Linked DNA regions of Homo sapiens: region 2 is linked to region 1. Evidence: fine-mapped expression QTL. Tissue or cell type: whole blood. Region 1 holds a variant in brackets; the other region holds the start of a gene. All regions are shown on one strand. Distances are between the middles of the regions.

Evidence for each region. PIP is the estimated chance that this variant, and not a neighbour inherited with it, causes the effect.
Region 2: NFATC2IP starts here. The variant in region 1 is fine-mapped to the expression of NFATC2IP in whole blood (INTERVAL, PIP above 0.99).

Annotation. Positions count from the first base shown.
Region 1 is chr16:28,821,531-28,829,632 of GRCh38, forward strand. It overlaps ATXN2L (ataxin 2 like), which reads left to right and starts at 1,469. Exons shown (of 22, transcript NM_007245.4): 1 at 1,469-2,028; 2 at 3,836-3,872; 3 at 4,094-4,150; 4 at 4,240-4,311; 5 at 4,710-4,860; 6 at 5,332-5,456; 7 at 7,871-7,962. The coding sequence starts at 1,730. LOC124903672 (a long non-coding RNA gene) reads right to left here and starts at 2,512. Exons shown (of 2, transcript XR_007065042.1): 1 at 2,364-2,512. RefSeq lists enhancers at 748-1,484, 996-1,205 and a silencer at 1,526-2,675. The variant A/T (reference allele first, on the strand shown) is at 4,484.
Region 2 is chr16:28,946,037-28,954,132 of GRCh38, forward strand. It overlaps NFATC2IP (nuclear factor of activated T cells 2 interacting protein), which reads left to right and starts at 4,901. Exons shown (of 8, transcript NM_032815.4): 1 at 4,901-5,362; 2 at 6,096-6,168. The coding sequence starts at 4,976. NFATC2IP-AS1 (NFATC2IP antisense RNA 1) reads right to left here. Exons shown (of 2, transcript NR_186408.1): 2 at 6,866-8,096. RefSeq lists enhancers at 4,223-4,757, 4,777-5,277 and silencers at 4,997-5,096, 5,237-5,356.

The sequences.
Region 1 (8,102 bases):
TCCTGAGTAGCTGGGATTACAGGCATGCACCACCACGCCTAGCTAATTTTTGCATTTTTAGTAGAGACAGGGTTTCACCATGTTGGCCAGGCTGATCTCAAACTCCTGACCTCAAACCTCCCAAAGTACTGGGATTACAGACCATGCCCAGCCTCTTTTCACTTTCTTAAATAAGCTCCCCACTGCTTTGAGGATAATGTCCGTGTCTCTTACAAGACTTGGGAGCCTTTAAAACCTGATCCCAGATTAGCTACCTCTTCCCCCCTTTAATTTTATGCTTAGGACAAGCTGAGTTTTTCTTAGTTTGTCATATCCTATTTCCCTGCCTAGAAACCCATCTCCCCCTGCCCTCTTATCAGTTTTTTTTTATAATTTAAATTTTTTTTTTTTTGTAGAGACAAAGTCTCACTTTGTTGCCTAGGCTGGTCTCAAACTCCTGGCCTTAAACGATCCTTCTGCCTCGGACTCCCAAAATGTTAGGATTACAGGTATGAGCCACTGCGCCCGGCCCTCCTGTCCCTTATCTGGGTCTCCCAAAACTGGATTAAGATTAGGTGTCACTCCCATTTGCTCTTGTAGTCCTCTGTGCTTCACCTACTAGATCTCGTCAAATTCTCTGAATTCACCACTAGCATGAACTCCTCCAGAGCAGGAAGCAGTTTAATTATCCTTGTGTCCAAAACAACTAACTGAATACTCCAATGCCCAACTCATTTTGAATGAATGAAGCTGCCTTCATTGCAGGGTCGGGTGGAGGATTTTGAACTCGGAACTTTGGCCTTCAGTCTTTGTTATTACAGTTTAAAGATTCATTCTCGGGCATGGAGGAACAATTTAGGTCAAAATCACAAAAATCTGAAATAATTTAGGACGAGGCGTAAATTTATCTGCAAAGATCAACACGCTCAAACGAATCACTAATGCTCATCAGTCTTTTACTTAAAGCAAACAAGGTGGAGGGTAGCTCCTTGCGAAACCTACCACCTGCCTAAAAGCGCAGTGGCTCGGGTGGTCCAGTCCCGGAGACTTTCTTGGCACTTAAGGCTCTGCCCACGGGCCGCCAAGTGGCGGAAGAGCCTCACGCACGACGTGCCGCCTCACACTCCCGCGGAGGCATCGCGACGCAGCGACGGCGTGGGCGGAGAGGCCGGCCCTTCCTCTGGCGCCTTCGGCTCCTCCCCCTGCGCCTCACACGCTCATTGTGAAGCGACAGCGGCCGCCGGCTTCTAAGGCGGTTTGAGACCTTAAGACCCTAAATCCTTGGCGCGCGTGAGCGCCCGCGCCGCTCCTTACCCACTCCCAGGGCTAGGGGTGCGAGGTTCACCGACTTGATTCTCTCCCACTTTCCCGCCGGGAGCTAACCGCGCCGGTGTGCGCGGCACCTCGCGCCACTGCTCGCTCCTGGCCCCCCCCCCCCCCCCCCCCCCCCGGGAGCTCCCACCCGCGCGCTCCTCCCTCTCCGCTCCCCGGCGACGCGCACGCGCGCCAGCCCGGCTCGCGCCCTCTCGCTTTCCTCCAGCCGCGAGACCCCCTCCCCTTCCGCCTCGCGGCGCTTCCTCGCGCCGCGGTCTTCTCTCTCCACCCCCGACACCGCGGGGCTCCCCCCGCCCGCCCACGGCGGGCCCCGGCTGCCCGATCCCCCTCGCTTCCCGCGCTCTCCAGCGGGGCCCCAGCCCCGGCCCCCTCTCTCCCTCCCTTCTCTCTAATTCCCCTTCCGGACGCTGCCATCATGTTGAAGCCTCAGCCGCTACAACAGCCCTCCCAGCCCCAGCAGCCGCCCCCCACGCAACAGGCCGTGGCCCGTCGGCCCCCCGGGGGCACCAGCCCTCCCAACGGCGGCCTCCCGGGGCCGCTGGCCACCTCTGCGGCTCCTCCCGGGCCTCCAGCGGCCGCCTCCCCCTGCCTGGGGCCTGTGGCCGCTGCCGGGAGCGGGCTCCGCCGGGGAGCCGAAGGCATCTTGGCGCCGCAGCCGCCGCCGCCGCAGCAACACCAGGAGAGGCCGGGGGCAGCCGCCATCGGCAGCGCCAGGTGAGAAGGGTGGGCTCCGGGCGAGGGAGCCGCGGCCACCCAGAGGCTGTGGCTCGGTTCCGGTGGGGCGGACCCCGACCCGGCACCGTCAGGGGCACCGGCTGGGTGGGGAGTCCCCGTGAAGCTGGGGGAGGGCCCCCTCAGGTCCGAACAGGTCGGACGGAAAGGGTCCCCGGGCGGCCACCGGAGCACTGAGGGGCCGCGCTCGGCTCTCGGGGCCTAGTCAGGGCTCGCAGCCCCGGCCTTCAGGGGAGGCGGGGCGCATCCCGCCGGCGCCGTCGGAACGGGGAGTTGGGGGGGGGCAAGGAGCTGATCGGGGTCCCCGGTTCCATTACCACGAAGGGTCTCGCGGTCCCCGGCTTCAGCCAATGGGGAGTCTGCTGCGGGAAGGGGTCCCCGGCCGTAGCCAATGGAGGGGGGCGCGCGGCCCACAGTTTGGCCAATGGGGAGGGAGGGACTTGGGAGCGGGTTGCTGCCTCCCCCTTCCCGGTCTGGCCAGTAGGAGGGGAGCGAGGTGGGCGGGGGGACGGAAGGAGGGATGACTGGGAGGACTGCGGGCCGGGAGCCTCTGGCGCGCGCGCCCCCTTCCCGTACGTGCGCGTGGATGCTCGGTCTCATGACCCGGGCATTCGCGCGCCCCGGGAACACCTAGGGCAGGGACTAGTTCGTGGAGGGGCTCGTCTGGTGGCAGTGCATGAGTAGTGGAGGCCCTGCTCAGTTTTTCCTGTGCGAGTGTGTGTGTGTTAATGGAATTAAGAGTGGCAGCACACGCAGGCGCAGTGGGCTCTGATCGCTGGAGGTGGGGGTTCGGAAAGTCCCGTGGGTTTTAGTGCGCAGGCGCAGACCGGGCGAGGCCTCCCGGTGGATGGCTTTTGCGGCTGCGCTGTCCCCCAGCCCCGCCAGCGGCCCCCTCTTCGCCCTCAACCGCCGGTTACATCAGCCAGCGACGAGCAGGGTTACCTGGCGATTGGTGATCCCCGCAGAGTGGGTAACGGGCTGAATGAGTCATGAGGTCGAGGGGATGGGGTGTGGAGGGGATACCCCTCCTCCCACAGTTTTGAGGCGTCAGGCTGCTGAAAATGATTGTCTTTTCTGTTTGGGAGGTAATGTACCTGAGCTAGGTAGTTCCAAAGCTGCACTCCTGGAGCTTTTGCCCTCACAGCTGGCGTGGCTTTTTGGTTAATACTGTAGCATTGATCTGTTGGTAGCCTGCAGCCCTAGCCCCTTTCTCGTTGGTTCTTAGAGCAATTGACAACCATTGTTGATTGAGATCTTTTTGCTGGCATTTGGAGGAAATGTGTTTGCTGGCTTATTAATGTCTATTTTTTTCTTCCTCTACAAGGTGACAGTTTGAAAATCTTATTTATTGGCCGGGCGCAGTGGCTCACGCCTGTAATGCCAGCACTTTAGGAGGCAAAGGTGGGAGGATCCCTTGAGCCCAAGGAGATCGATACCAGCCTGGGCAACACAGATGGGAAATCCCATCTCTACTAAAAATTAAAAAAAAAAAAAGCCAGGAGTGGTGGTTCGTACCTATAGTCTCAGCCACTCGGGAGGCTGAGGCAGGAAGATCACTTGAGCCTTGGAGGTTGAGGCTACAGTGAACTGAGATCACGCCACTGCACCCCAGCCTGGGCAACAGAGGGAGACCCTGTCTCAAAAAAAATAGAAAAATCTTACTGATTAACAATTTTGTAGTCTAAATCAGCATCATCAGGTGGTATATACTTCTAGGATTTAACATTAATTTCATAGTGGTCTAAGAGGGCTTGAACAGACTTAAGTAATTTCTTGTTTTCTTTTATAGGGGACAGAGCACAGGAAAGGGACCCCCACAGTCACCTGTGAGTGTCTTCTCCCACCCTGTTTAAGATACATAGACCTAAAAGATGCATAATGTGGGAATATAGGGCACATTAGGTCTAGATAGAGTCTAATGTACTCAGGAGGGCTGTGGGCCCGGCACACACAAGGCAGAATGAGTAGAGTGCGGCGGGCATTTAGAAAAGAAAATGAGGTGTTGACTGATTACTCCTTTAATTCTCCCTCTTATGTTAACTGACAGGTGTTTGAAGGCGTCTACAACAATTCCAGAATGCTGCATTTCCTTACAGCTGTTGTGGTAAGTTGGTACTTAACCCCCGGGTTGTTTAAGGAACGTAATGCATCTACTTTCTGGAGACACTCTTCTTATTTTTCCCACTCTGCCAGGGCTCCACTTGTGATGTAAAGGTGAAAAATGGTACCACTTATGAGGGTATCTTCAAGACGCTAAGCTCAAAGGTCAGTGTACTCAAATTTAATTATTTTTGGAGTTGCAGAGTAGGAGGAGAATGAAATAGGCTCATTGAAGGTGTCAATTGGGTGATGTCAGAGTATGCCTTTAGTTGTTTCTGTAGGCCTGTGCTGAATAGTGCTGCAGGGAAAAAAGACAAATTTGAGGGCTGGGTACTTT[A/T]ATGTTAAAATATTTAAGTTTAAATTTTTGTGAGACTTTTGCTAAGTCCTGTGGCTGATGTTGAGAAAACAATGCACTTGGTTCCAAGCATGTTGAGGATGTAGTGTTGTGAAAAGTTTGGGAAGGGTAAGAGAAATCCAGTTCTATTTAAGAGAAATCCAGTTCTATTTTTGCCTTCACTTTTCTTGAAACTGACCCATGGGTGTGGGGAATGGGGTGTTTGTAGTTTGAACTAGCCGTGGATGCTGTGCACCGGAAAGCATCTGAGCCAGCAGGTGGCCCTCGTCGGGAGGACATTGTGGACACCATGGTGTTTAAGCCAAGTGATGTCATGCTTGTTCACTTCCGAAATGTTGACTTCAACTATGCTACTAAAGGTATTGTCCTAGGCTGTTACCTCAGACCTGCTCTGTGTGCATAGAGGACAGAGGGTAGTTTGTGTGCAGGTGGAACATGGTGATGTGTTTGGTTTGTTTTTTTGTTTTTGTTTGTTTGTTTTGCTTTAATGCCTTTTTTTTCCTGAGCGAAGTGGGTGGATTTTTCTTCTTAAAAATATGTCTTGATGTCTAATATATAATGCGATGAATTCCTGTCTGTGTTGTGGTTCTTCATATTTTCTTTGCTTGGTTTTTAACTTCTTTTTTCTTTGGAATCATAGTACTGATAGACTTTTTATACTCTTCTTCTCTTGCCTCCCCACCCCCTGGCCATCCTAACACACGGGCACACGTACTCTGGACTTCTTAAACTTTGTTCCTGAACTACTTACGGAGAGTGGGGTTGGGGGATATTGGAAAGAAGTCTGTGAAATATAGCCTGACTCCTGATCTTCACCTCTGCCCCCACAGACAAGTTCACCGATTCAGCCATTGCCATGAACTCGAAAGTGAATGGGGAACACAAAGAGAAGGTGCTTCAGCGCTGGGAGGGGGGTGACAGCAACAGCGACGACTATGACCTCGAGTCTGACATGGTATAGCCTCCTTCCCTGAGAACTTGGGAGCTGGACAGACAGAATGGGTTGTTGACAGTGAGGTTCATTTGAGTGGGGAGGGAAATATTTACTGTTGCCCATTGATGGTAGTCAGATAACAAATAGAAAGGTATAGAAAATAGCAAAGTAAAAATATCTATTCTTAGCTGGGTGCAGTGGCTCATGTTTGTAATCCCAGCACTTTGGGAGGCCAAGGCCGGTGGGTCACTTGAGGCAAGGATTTCGAGACCAGTCTGGGCAACATGGTGAAACCCTGTCTCAACAAGATATATAAAAGCTATCAAGGTTTGGTGGCATGTACCTGTAGTCCCAGCTACTTGGGAGGCTGAAGTGGAAGGATCACTTGAGCCCAGGGAGGTCGAGGCTACAGTGAGCTGTGATCATACCACTGCACTCCAGCCTGGGTGGACCGTGTCACACGCAACAAAACCAAAACATCAACTTACTCTCTTACTATCTATAATTAACCACTCCTAGCATTTGCATCACGTTATTTTTCAACATAACAAAAAGTATAGATTAATGTGTAGGCCCATTTCTCTTCCCAAAATCAGCTACTCTGAGGCATTTAAAATCTCATGAGGCTGAGCGCAGTGGCTCATGCCTGTAGTCCCAGCTACTTGGGAGGCCAAGGCAGGAGCTCCGATCACTTGAGCCCAGGAGTTTGAGGCTGCTGTAAGCTGAGATTGTGCCACTGGACTCCAGTCTGAGCGACAGTGAGGATGTCTCAAAAAAATAAATAAAAACCGCTCATGAATAGAGCTGAGCGTGGTGGTCCCACACCTGTAGTCCCAGCTACTCAGGAGGCTGAGGTAGGAGAATCATTTGAAGCTTTGGTGCACTATGACTCAACTTGTGAATGGCCACTGTGCTCCAGCCTGGGCATCATAGCGAGACTATCTGTTGAGAAACAAATGTCTTGTGAATGAATATATTATTGTTTTGTTATGTTTAGTTTGTACAAGAATTTGCTTTTCTTGCCTTTTCGAACTTCTCATGGTTGTACGTAGATCTAGTTCTTTGCTTCTATTGTTGTGTGCTGTTTTCAAATATACACACACACGTGTACACAGCAAATTGTATTTGTCCTTTTCCTTAATCATCTGCATTTGGTTGCCATTATTTTGCTACTAAAAATAGTACCTTGCTGGACTTTTAGAACATATATTCCCCACGCACATGTGCCAGAATTTTTCTGGGATGTCTTGGAAATAGAATTGTTAGGTCTTATGACTTTTCAGGTTTACTAGTTATTGATAATTTCTGCTGCAGTTGTTAGTAATCATTAACAGTTGCAGGCCGGGCGCGGTGGCTCACACCAGTAATCCCAGCACTTTGGGAGGCCAAGGCGGGCAGATCACCTGAGGTTGGGAGTTTGGAACTAGCCTGACCAACGTGGAGAAGCCCCATCTCTACTAAAAATACAAAATTAGCTGGGCGTGGTGGCACATGCCCGTAATCCCAGCTACTCGTGAGGTTGAGGCAGGAGAATCGCTTGAACCCAAGGAGACGGAGGTTGCGGTGAGCCAAGATCGCACCATTGCACTCCAGCCTGGGCAACAAGAGTGAAACTCTTTGTCTCCAAAAAAAAAAAAAAAATTGCAGTTATTAATTACAATTATTAGTTGATTACTTTTGCCAGCCACGTTCCAATTTTTTTTCCACTCTTGTTTTGTCGTTTATTTTTGAGACGAGCTTGCTCTGTTGCCCGGGTTTTTGTTGTAGTTGTTTGTTTTTGTTTTTGTTTTTGTTTTTTTTGGAGACAGGGTCTCACTCTGTCACTCAGGCTGGAGGCTGGAGTGCAGTGGCTCGATCTCAGCTCACTGCAACCTCTGCCTCCCAGGTTCAAGCGATTCTTCTGCCTCAGCCAGGACTGCAGGCATGCGCCACCACGGATGGCTAATTTTTTATTTTTAGTAGAGACGGGGTTTCACCATGTTGGTCAGGTTGATCTCCTGACCTCAGGTGATCCACCCACCTCCCAAAGTGCTGGGATTACAGGCATGAGCCACCACGCCCAGCTAGTCGCCCAGGCCAGAGCGCAGTGGTGCCATAATAATTCACTGCAGCCTCAAACTCCTGGGCTCAAGTGATCCTCTCTCCTCAATCTCCTGAGTAGCGAGTAGCTAGGACCCCAGGCATGCACCACCACACCCGGCTGTTTCATTATTTTTTTCTAGAGATGAGCTCTTGCTGTGTTGCCCAGTCTGGCCTTAAACTCCTGGCCTCAGGAGAGCCTCCTGCCTCAGCTTCCCAAAGTACTGGGATTACAGGTTTCAGCCACTGTGCCCAGCCAATTTGTTCACATCTTGGAGTTTTTAACCTGATGGAAGGGAAGTGACTTGTCGTTGCTTTTCCTGCTGGGTTTTAAAACCACCTTCCTCCCTCCCCAGTCCAATGGATGGGACCCCAATGAAATGTTCAAGTTCAATGAGGAGAACTACGGTGTGAAGACTACCTATGATAGCAGTCTTTCTTCTTATACGTGAGTATCTTGGTGCTCTCCAGGTGATGTGTTGGTGATATGGGGTCACTAAGTGAAGACAGGTTTCCAGGTAGAACATAGTTTTTGCTCATTTTTCTCTGGGTGTCCAGGGTCGCCATCCCTACTCCTACTCTGCCTTG
Region 2 (8,096 bases), 120 kb after region 1:
GTGGGAAGAGTGAAGTGTTGAAGGGGCGTGTTTGTGTTGTGTTGGGATATATGTTGTGCAGGAGTTGCCAACGCTGTGGATGTGTGGAGGGCGTGTAGTCTCTGAGGTGCACAATATTGTTGGTAGGAGGTGTTGGCGAGTGTGTTTGGGAAATATAATTAAGAAACAAAATATCTAAACCCAACAAACTTCTCCACAAAGGTAGTAGAGACAGAAAACAGTTTTATTATTATTTTTGGTTAAAAAGTTGTAAAATGGGCCTGGCGTGATGGCTCACGCCTGTAATCCCAGCACTTTGGGTGGCTGAGGCGGGCGGCTCACCTGAGGTTGGGAGTTCGAGACCAGCCTGACCAACATGGTGAAACTCCATCTCTACTAAAAGTACAAAAAATTAGCCAGGCGTGGTGGCGCATGTCTGTAATCCCAGCTACTCAGGAGGCTGAGGCAGGAGAATCGCTTGAACCCGGGAGGTGGAGGTTGCAGTGATCCAAGATTGTGCCACTGCACTCCAGCCTGGGCAACAAGAGTGGAACTCCATCTCAAAAAAAAAAAAGTTTTAAAATGTATTATTATTTTTCGTAGAGTTGGGGGTTTTACTATATTGCCTAGGCGGGTCTTAACGCTCAGCCTGAAGTGATCCTCCCACCTTGGCCTCCCAAAGTGCTGGGATTACAGACGTGAACCACTGTGCCTGGCCTTAAATTGTATGTATTTATTTATTTTTAGAGAGAGGGTCTTGCTCTGTTGCCCAGGCTCGAGTGAAGTGGTGAGATCATAGCTCACTGCAGCCTTGAACTCCTGGGCTCAATCAGCCTCCCAAGTAGCTAGGACTACAGGTGTGCATCACGACACCCACTAATTATTATTACTTTTTGTAGAGACAGGGTCTTGCTATATTGCCCAGGCTGGCCTTGAACCCTAGACCTCAAGTGATCCTCCCACCTCAGGCTCCCAGTGCTGGGATTACAGGCATAAGCCAACATGCCCGGGCTGGTTTTATTATTGAATAAGCATAATTTTTCTTTCTTTTTTGACATGGAGTTTCACTCTTGTTGCCCATGCTGGAGTGCAATGGCACAATCTCAGCTCACTGGAACCTCTGCCTCCCGGGTTCAAGTGATCCTCCTGCCTCAGGCTCCGGAGTAGTTGGGATTACAGGTGCCCACCACAATGCCTGGCTAATTTTTTGTATTTTTAGTAGAAAAATACACCACCATATTGGCCAGGCTGGTCTCGAACTCCTGACCTCAGGTGATCCAACCACCTCAGCCTCCCAAAGTACTGGGATTAGAGGCGTGAGCCACTGCACCCGGCTTGAATAAGCATTAAGTTAGAATGTGATGCACATCACTGGCAATCTGGTAAAAGATTGCAAAGGCAAAAAGAAATATCCTTCATTACAGCCAAGCAGGTGTAAACCATTATCCTGTTTTCAAGATAAAATTTCAAATTCCATATTGTTACAGGAGCTGCAGGTTCATATGCCCACTGTGCAGTCACAGCTCTGTGACTCTGAGACGGTGGGGATGCAGCAGAGAGAGTTTAATGATTGCAGGGTGCCGAGCGAGGTGATGGGAGGAGACCCTCAAATCTCTCTCCAGGGAGTTCTGGGCTGGGCTTTTAAGGGGTTTGTGGGGAGTGATGGGCTGGAATATTGGGGTCATTGATTGGTTGGGAAGGGGGATGAAATTGTCAGGGTGTAGAAGCTGCATTTTGCGGGGAGTCAGCTCCTTGTGGGGTCCTTCAGGTCAGCTGAATCAGTAGTTCCATCAAGACCTGAAGGAATATCTCAAAGGGAACACCTAATGTAATGTCCAAGCCGTGATTCAAGAGCAGTTAAGGGGAACTATAATCTTCTGACAGGGGCTGTGTGACTGTGGGGCAACAGGCACCAGATGGCTTTGGGGAAGCAGGTCAGGGAGCAGCTGCCCTGAGATCAATGCTGAGTGCACCGCAAGTTTGGTTTCTTTTCATTTCTCCCTCTCCCTTCTTCTCAAGTTTATAGGGGTGGTTGCAATACCATGTTTTCAAGATAAACAATGACTAGTCCTCACGTAAGAGGACGTGACAACACCTTTAGTCAAACATAGTTCAGCCTTTTTTTTTTTTTTTTTTTTTTGAGACGGAGTCTCGCTCTGTCGCCCAGGCTGGAGTGCAGTGGTGCAATCTCGGCTCACTGCAACCTGCGCCTCCTGGGTTCATGCCATGCTCCTGCCTCAGCCTCCCGAGTAGCTGGGACTACAGGCGCCCGCCACCACGCCCAGCTAATTTTTTGTATTTTTTAGTAGAGACAGGGTTTCACTGTGTTAGCCAGGATGGTCTCAATCTCTGGACCTTGTCATCCGCCCGCCTTGGCCTCCCAAAGTGCTGGGATTACAGGTATGGGCCATCGCGCCTGGCTTTTTTTTTTTTCTTTTGCAACAGAGTCTGGCTCTGTCTCCCAGGCTGGAGGGCAATGGCTCGATCTCGGGTCACTGCAACCTCCACCTCCTGGGTTCAACTGATCCTCCTGCCTCAGCCTCCCAAGTAGCTAGGAATACAGGCGCACACCACCATGCCCAGCTAATTTTGTTTTGTATTTTAGTAGAGATGGGGTTTCACCATGTTGGCCAGGCTGGTCTCGAACTCCTGACCTCAAGTGATCCACCCGCCTCGGCCTCCCAAAGTGCTGGGATTACAGGCGTGAGCCACCACGCCTGGCCCCAGTCTAACTTTATGATGGTAAGTGGGGTGACCACCTGTGTTATTGAATTGGCTTGTATGGTAGGGGTGAGTAGACACAAACTTTTCATATCTTTAGGACAGGAGGTAGCCTGCATCTTGGAGCAAGACTGAAGCCAAGCTTTTCCCTCCTAGGGGAAATGGGAGACAAGAGAGCTAACTGCCTTGACGACGGCATTTCGTCAGGGCTCCCAGGTCCTTGAATTCCTGAATTTGGAGACTGGCAAGTGGCTTATGTAGCCATCATGAAGATTTACATATGCCAGGCTGGGTGCTGTGGCTCACACCTGTAATCCCCGCACTTTGGGAGGCCGAGCCAGGTGGATCACTTGAGGTCAGGAGTTCAAGACCGGCCTGGGCAACATGGTGAAACCCCGTCTCTACTAAAAATACAAAAATTAGCTGGGCAAGGTGGCAGGCAACAGTAATCCCAGCTACTCGGGAAGCTGAGGCAAGAGAATCCTTTGAACCCTGAAGGTGGAGGTTGCAATGAGCTGAGATCGCACCATTGCACTCCAGCCTGGGCAACAGAGCAAAACTCCGAATCAAGAAAAAGAAAAAAATAAAATAAATAGTCGGGCGCAGTGGCTCACGCCTGTAATCCCAGCACTTTGGGAGGCCAAGGCGGGGGCGGAGGGGGGTGGATCACCTGAGGTCAGGAGTTCAAGACCAGCCTGACCAACATGGTGAGACCCCATCTCCACTAAAAATACAAAATTAGCTGGGCATGGTAGTGCACGCCTGTAATCAATCCCAGCTACTTGGAGACTGAGGCACGAGAATTGCTTGAATCTGGGAGGCAGAGGTTGCAGTGAACCGAGATCGAGCCATTGCACTCCAGCCTGGGCAATAAGAGCGAAACTCCATCTCAAAATAAATAAATAAATAAAATTAAATAAATGAATAAAATAAAATTTAAAAATAAATAAATACATAAGATTTTTTTTTGAGATGGAGTCTCACTCTGTTGCCCAGGCTGGAGTGCAGTGGTACAATCTTGGCTCAGTGCAACCTCTGCCTCCTGGGTTCCAGCGATTCTCCTGCCTCAGCCTCCCGAGTAGCTGAGATTATAGGCGCCTGCCACTACGCCTGTCTAATTTTTGTATTTTAGTAGAGACAGGGTTTTACCATGTTGGTCAGGCTGGTCTCGAACTCCTGACCTCAGGTGATCTGCCCACCTCGGCCTCCCAAAGTGCTGGATTATAGGCGTGAGCCACCACGCCCAGCCTTATTATTTCTATCTTTCTTTCTTTTTTTGAGAGAGAGTCTCGCTCTGTCGGCCAGGCTGGAGTGCAGCGGCAGGATCTGGCTCACTGTAACCTCTGCCTCCCGGGCTCAAGCAATTCTCCTGCCTCAGCCTCCTGAGTAGCTGGGATTACAGGCGCACGCCACCACGCCCGCCTAATTTTTGTATTTTTAGTAGAGACGGGGTTTCACCGTGTTGGCCAGGCTGGTCTTGAACTTCTGACCTCGTGATTCGCCTGCCTCGGCCTCCCAAAGTGCTGGGATTACAGGCGTGAGCCACCGCGCGCGGCCAGCCTTATTATTTCTTTAAAGCATTTTTGAGACAGGGTCTCGCCCTGTCACCCAGGCTGGGGTGCAGTGGTGCGATCTCCGCCTCCCGGGCTCCAGCGAAACTCCCACCTCAGCCTCCTGAGTAGTTGGGACCACAGAGGGGTGCCACCACGCCCGGGTAATTTTTGCATTCTTAGTAGAGACGCGGTTTCGCCACATTGGCCAGGCTGGTCTCAAACTCCTGAGCTCAACCAATCTGCCCGCCTCAGCCTTTCAAAGTGCCAGGATTACGGGCGTGAGGCACCGCGCCTGGTTAAATCCGCGGTTTCCACAGGGAATTCCAGGCCCGCCTTCCTTCTCCCGGAAACCTTACCGCTCGAGGACTACATTTCCCAGGATGCCCTGCGACTAACCAAGCCGGAAGACGGTTGTCTTGGTTGGGCGGGTCCGGGAGAGGCTCGTCTGTGGAGAGGTGGCCCAGCCAATGGGTGAGGCCGACTGAATCGAAAGCTACGGTGATTGTGCCGAGGTGATTGGAATCTTTGGCGCCTTGGTTTCAGAGGTGGGCGCATGATGAGCGGGTACAGAGACCAATGAAAAGGCGGGAAGGCGGATCCCGCGCGTGGGGCGCGAAGAGTTGCTGACGAGCAGGCTGTTTGTCCAATGCAAGGCGAAAGTCGCTGAAGGGGGCGGGGCGAGGCGAGAGGAGGCGGGCGTGTGTTGTGGAGGAAAGTGTGCCATGGCGGAGCCTGTGGGGAAGCGGGGCCGCTGGTCCGGAGGTAGCGGTGCCGGCCGAGGGGGTCGGGGCGGCTGGGGCGGTCGGGGCCGGCGTCCTCGGGCCCAGCGGTCTCCATCCCGGGGCACGCTGGACGTAGTGTCTGTGGACTTGGTCACCGACAGCGATGAGGAAATTCTGGAGGTCGCCACCGCTCGCGGTGCCGCGGACGAGGTTGAGGTGGAGCCCCCGGAGCCCCCGGGGCCGGTCGCGTCCCGGGATAACAGCAACAGTGACAGCGAAGGGGAGGACAGGCGGCCCGCAGGACCCCCGCGGGAGCCGGTCAGGCGGCGGCGGCGGCTGGTGCTGGATCCGGGGGAGGCGCCGCTGGTTCCGGTGTACTCGGGGAAGGTGCGCCCGGTCCCGGGGAGGGGACCGGCGGAAGGGCCAAGGGCTTGGCCTCCAGGGAGGGGCCGGCGTTCGGGGAGGGTAGGGCTATAGGGGTGTTGAGGCTGGCGTTCTGGGGCTGGTCCTCGGGCGTTAGGGTGTTGGAGGCAGGGAGAGGCAGGGCTCCGGGACTTTCTGCAGACTGGGGTGGTGAAGGAGGGTGGGATGCGTTGGAAGTTTAGGATTCCTAGGAGCTAGAGTCTTGGGGGCACAGGGAGGCTGAAGAGCTGGGATTCCTGAGATTTTGGAGAGGGACTGGGAGGACCTGGGGCCGTTGGATTTTGAGGTTGGGGTCCATGGCAAATGAAGCCAGGGAGCTGCAGTATTGGGGGTTGGGGTCCATGCGGGTTCAGAGAGGACTGGGCGGCTCCAGAGGCTGGGGTCCCCCGATGGTCGTGTGAGCAATGGGCTGAGAGTCCCTAAGAGTCAGGGGTAGAGGGGCGGCTAGTAACCTAGTTAAAAAGGGCAAGGAAGCATACATTTCAGAGTGTCTTAGGCAGATGGAGGAAAGGGTGAAGGGTACTTCCATTCTGAATCCTGGGGAAGCTGGACTTCTAGGTTGCCAGGAGAGGGCCAAGGTGTCCACGATCTTAGGGAGGATTTGGGAGCTGGGTGTCAGGGAAGAATTACCCCCAATTTTTTCTTTCGGTAGGGGAAGGACTTGGGCCTGACCCCTCTCCCTTCTTTGTCTTTGCAGGTTAAAAGCAGCCTTCGCCTTATCCCAGATGATCTATCCCTCCTGAAACTCTACCCTCCAGGGGATGAGGAAGGTAAGGGAGGGCCTCCAGGGAGAGGCACGCAGCCGCTGGCTTCTCTTAAGAGAATTCCTGGGGTTTATATTCCTGCAGTCAGTTGTCTCCTGAGGCTCAAGGGAAGAGCGTGGGAGAGGGGACTCCTGCATCCCAGCCACAGGAGCTGGATTGTTAACAAGCATAGAATGTATTAATGTATACATTTCTGGTGCCACCTGAAGAGATGCTGATTCTGTAGTCCTGGGCGGGGCAGGAGGCGGTAAGGTGTTGAGAATCTGTGACATCTTGTTACATCTGCAGCAAGTTCTTTGGGAACACTGGAGCCAGCAGGGTGTTCTCTGAATCTTATCAGGGATGCCCTGTCTTTGTCCTCCCCCACTGATGCATTTTTTGCAAACAACTCAAGGGCGGGGAATAGGAATCTAGTCTAATAAGGAAATAATCCAGTGGGCAAATGGAGACCTTGGACCAAGACTCTTGTACCATGAGGGAGTACAGTGGGGTGATTAAAAGCAAACAGGAGCCATCTGGCCTGGGTTTGAATCTCAGTTCTCTCTTTTTTTTTTTTTTTTTTAGACAGAGTTTCGCTTTTGTTGCCCAAGCTGGAGTGCAATGGCACGATCTCGGCTCGCTGCAACCTCCACCTCCTGGGTTCAAGCGATTCTCCTGCCTCAGCCTTCCCAGTAGCTGACTAATTCCCACCACGCCTGGCTAATTTTTTGTATTTTTAATAGAGATGGGGTTTCACCATGTTGGCCTGGCTGGTCTTGAACTCCTGACCTCAGGTGATCCGCCCATCTTAGCTTCCCAAATTGCTGGGATTACAGGCGTGAGCCACTGTGCCCGGCCTCAGCTCTATCTCTTAATAGCTGTGTGATCTTAGGCGAGTTTCTTTTTTCTTGTTTTGAGACAGAGTCTCACTCTGTCACCCAGGGTGGAGTGTAGTGGCGCAATCTTAGCTCACTGCAACCTCCATCTCCCAGGTTGAAGCCATTCTCCTGCCTCAGCCTCCCGAGTAGCAGGGATTACAGGCGCCCGCCACCATGTCTGGCTTTTTTGTATTTTTAGTAGAGATGGGGTTTCATCATGTTGGCCAGGCTGATCTCGAACTCCTGACCTTAGGTGATCTGTCTGCCTTGGTCACCCAAAGTGCTGGGATTACAGGCGTGAGCCACCACGCCCAGCCTGGGCAAGTTTCTTAATTTCTCAGTGCTTCAATTTCCTCATTATCAAAGTGGGGATAATAGTAGACCCCATTTTGGTGCTGATTTTGGTGAGAATTAACGAAAGGGAATATAGAGAGAGCTGCCTCTTGGCTAGATATATGCTTTAGGACAGTACCTAGGACACAGAAGTGCTACGTAAAAGGTACCTCTATCCCTGATACTCAAAACGTGGGCCCAGCCATATATGGCATCCGTTGGAAGCTTGCTAGAAATGCAGGATCGGCTGGGCACAATGGCTCAAAGTGCTGTAATCCCAGCACTTTGGGAGGCTGAGATGGGAGGATTGCTTGAGCCCAGGAGTTCGAGACCAGCCTGCGCAACATGATGAGACCCTGTTTCTACAGAAAAATAAAAAATTAACCAGGCATGGTGATGTGTACTTGTAGTCCTAGCTACTCAGGAGGCTGAGGTGGGAGAAACACCTGAGCCCAGGAAGTCGAGGCTGCAGTGAGCCATGATCATGCCACTGCACTCCAACCTGGGTGACACAGTAGGACCTGGTCTCAAAAAAAAAAAAAGAAAAACGAAATGCAGAATCATAGGCCTCTTGCAGCTGCCATAGTTAGTTAGGACAGGATTTCATGACTTCAGCATTACTGGCATTTTTTGGACTGGAAAATTCTTTGGTGTTGGAAACTGTCCTGTGCATTGTAGAAAGTTTAGCGGCATCCTGACTTCCATCCCTGGGAAGTATTATACCTCAGCCCCCTCGCCCTCCAC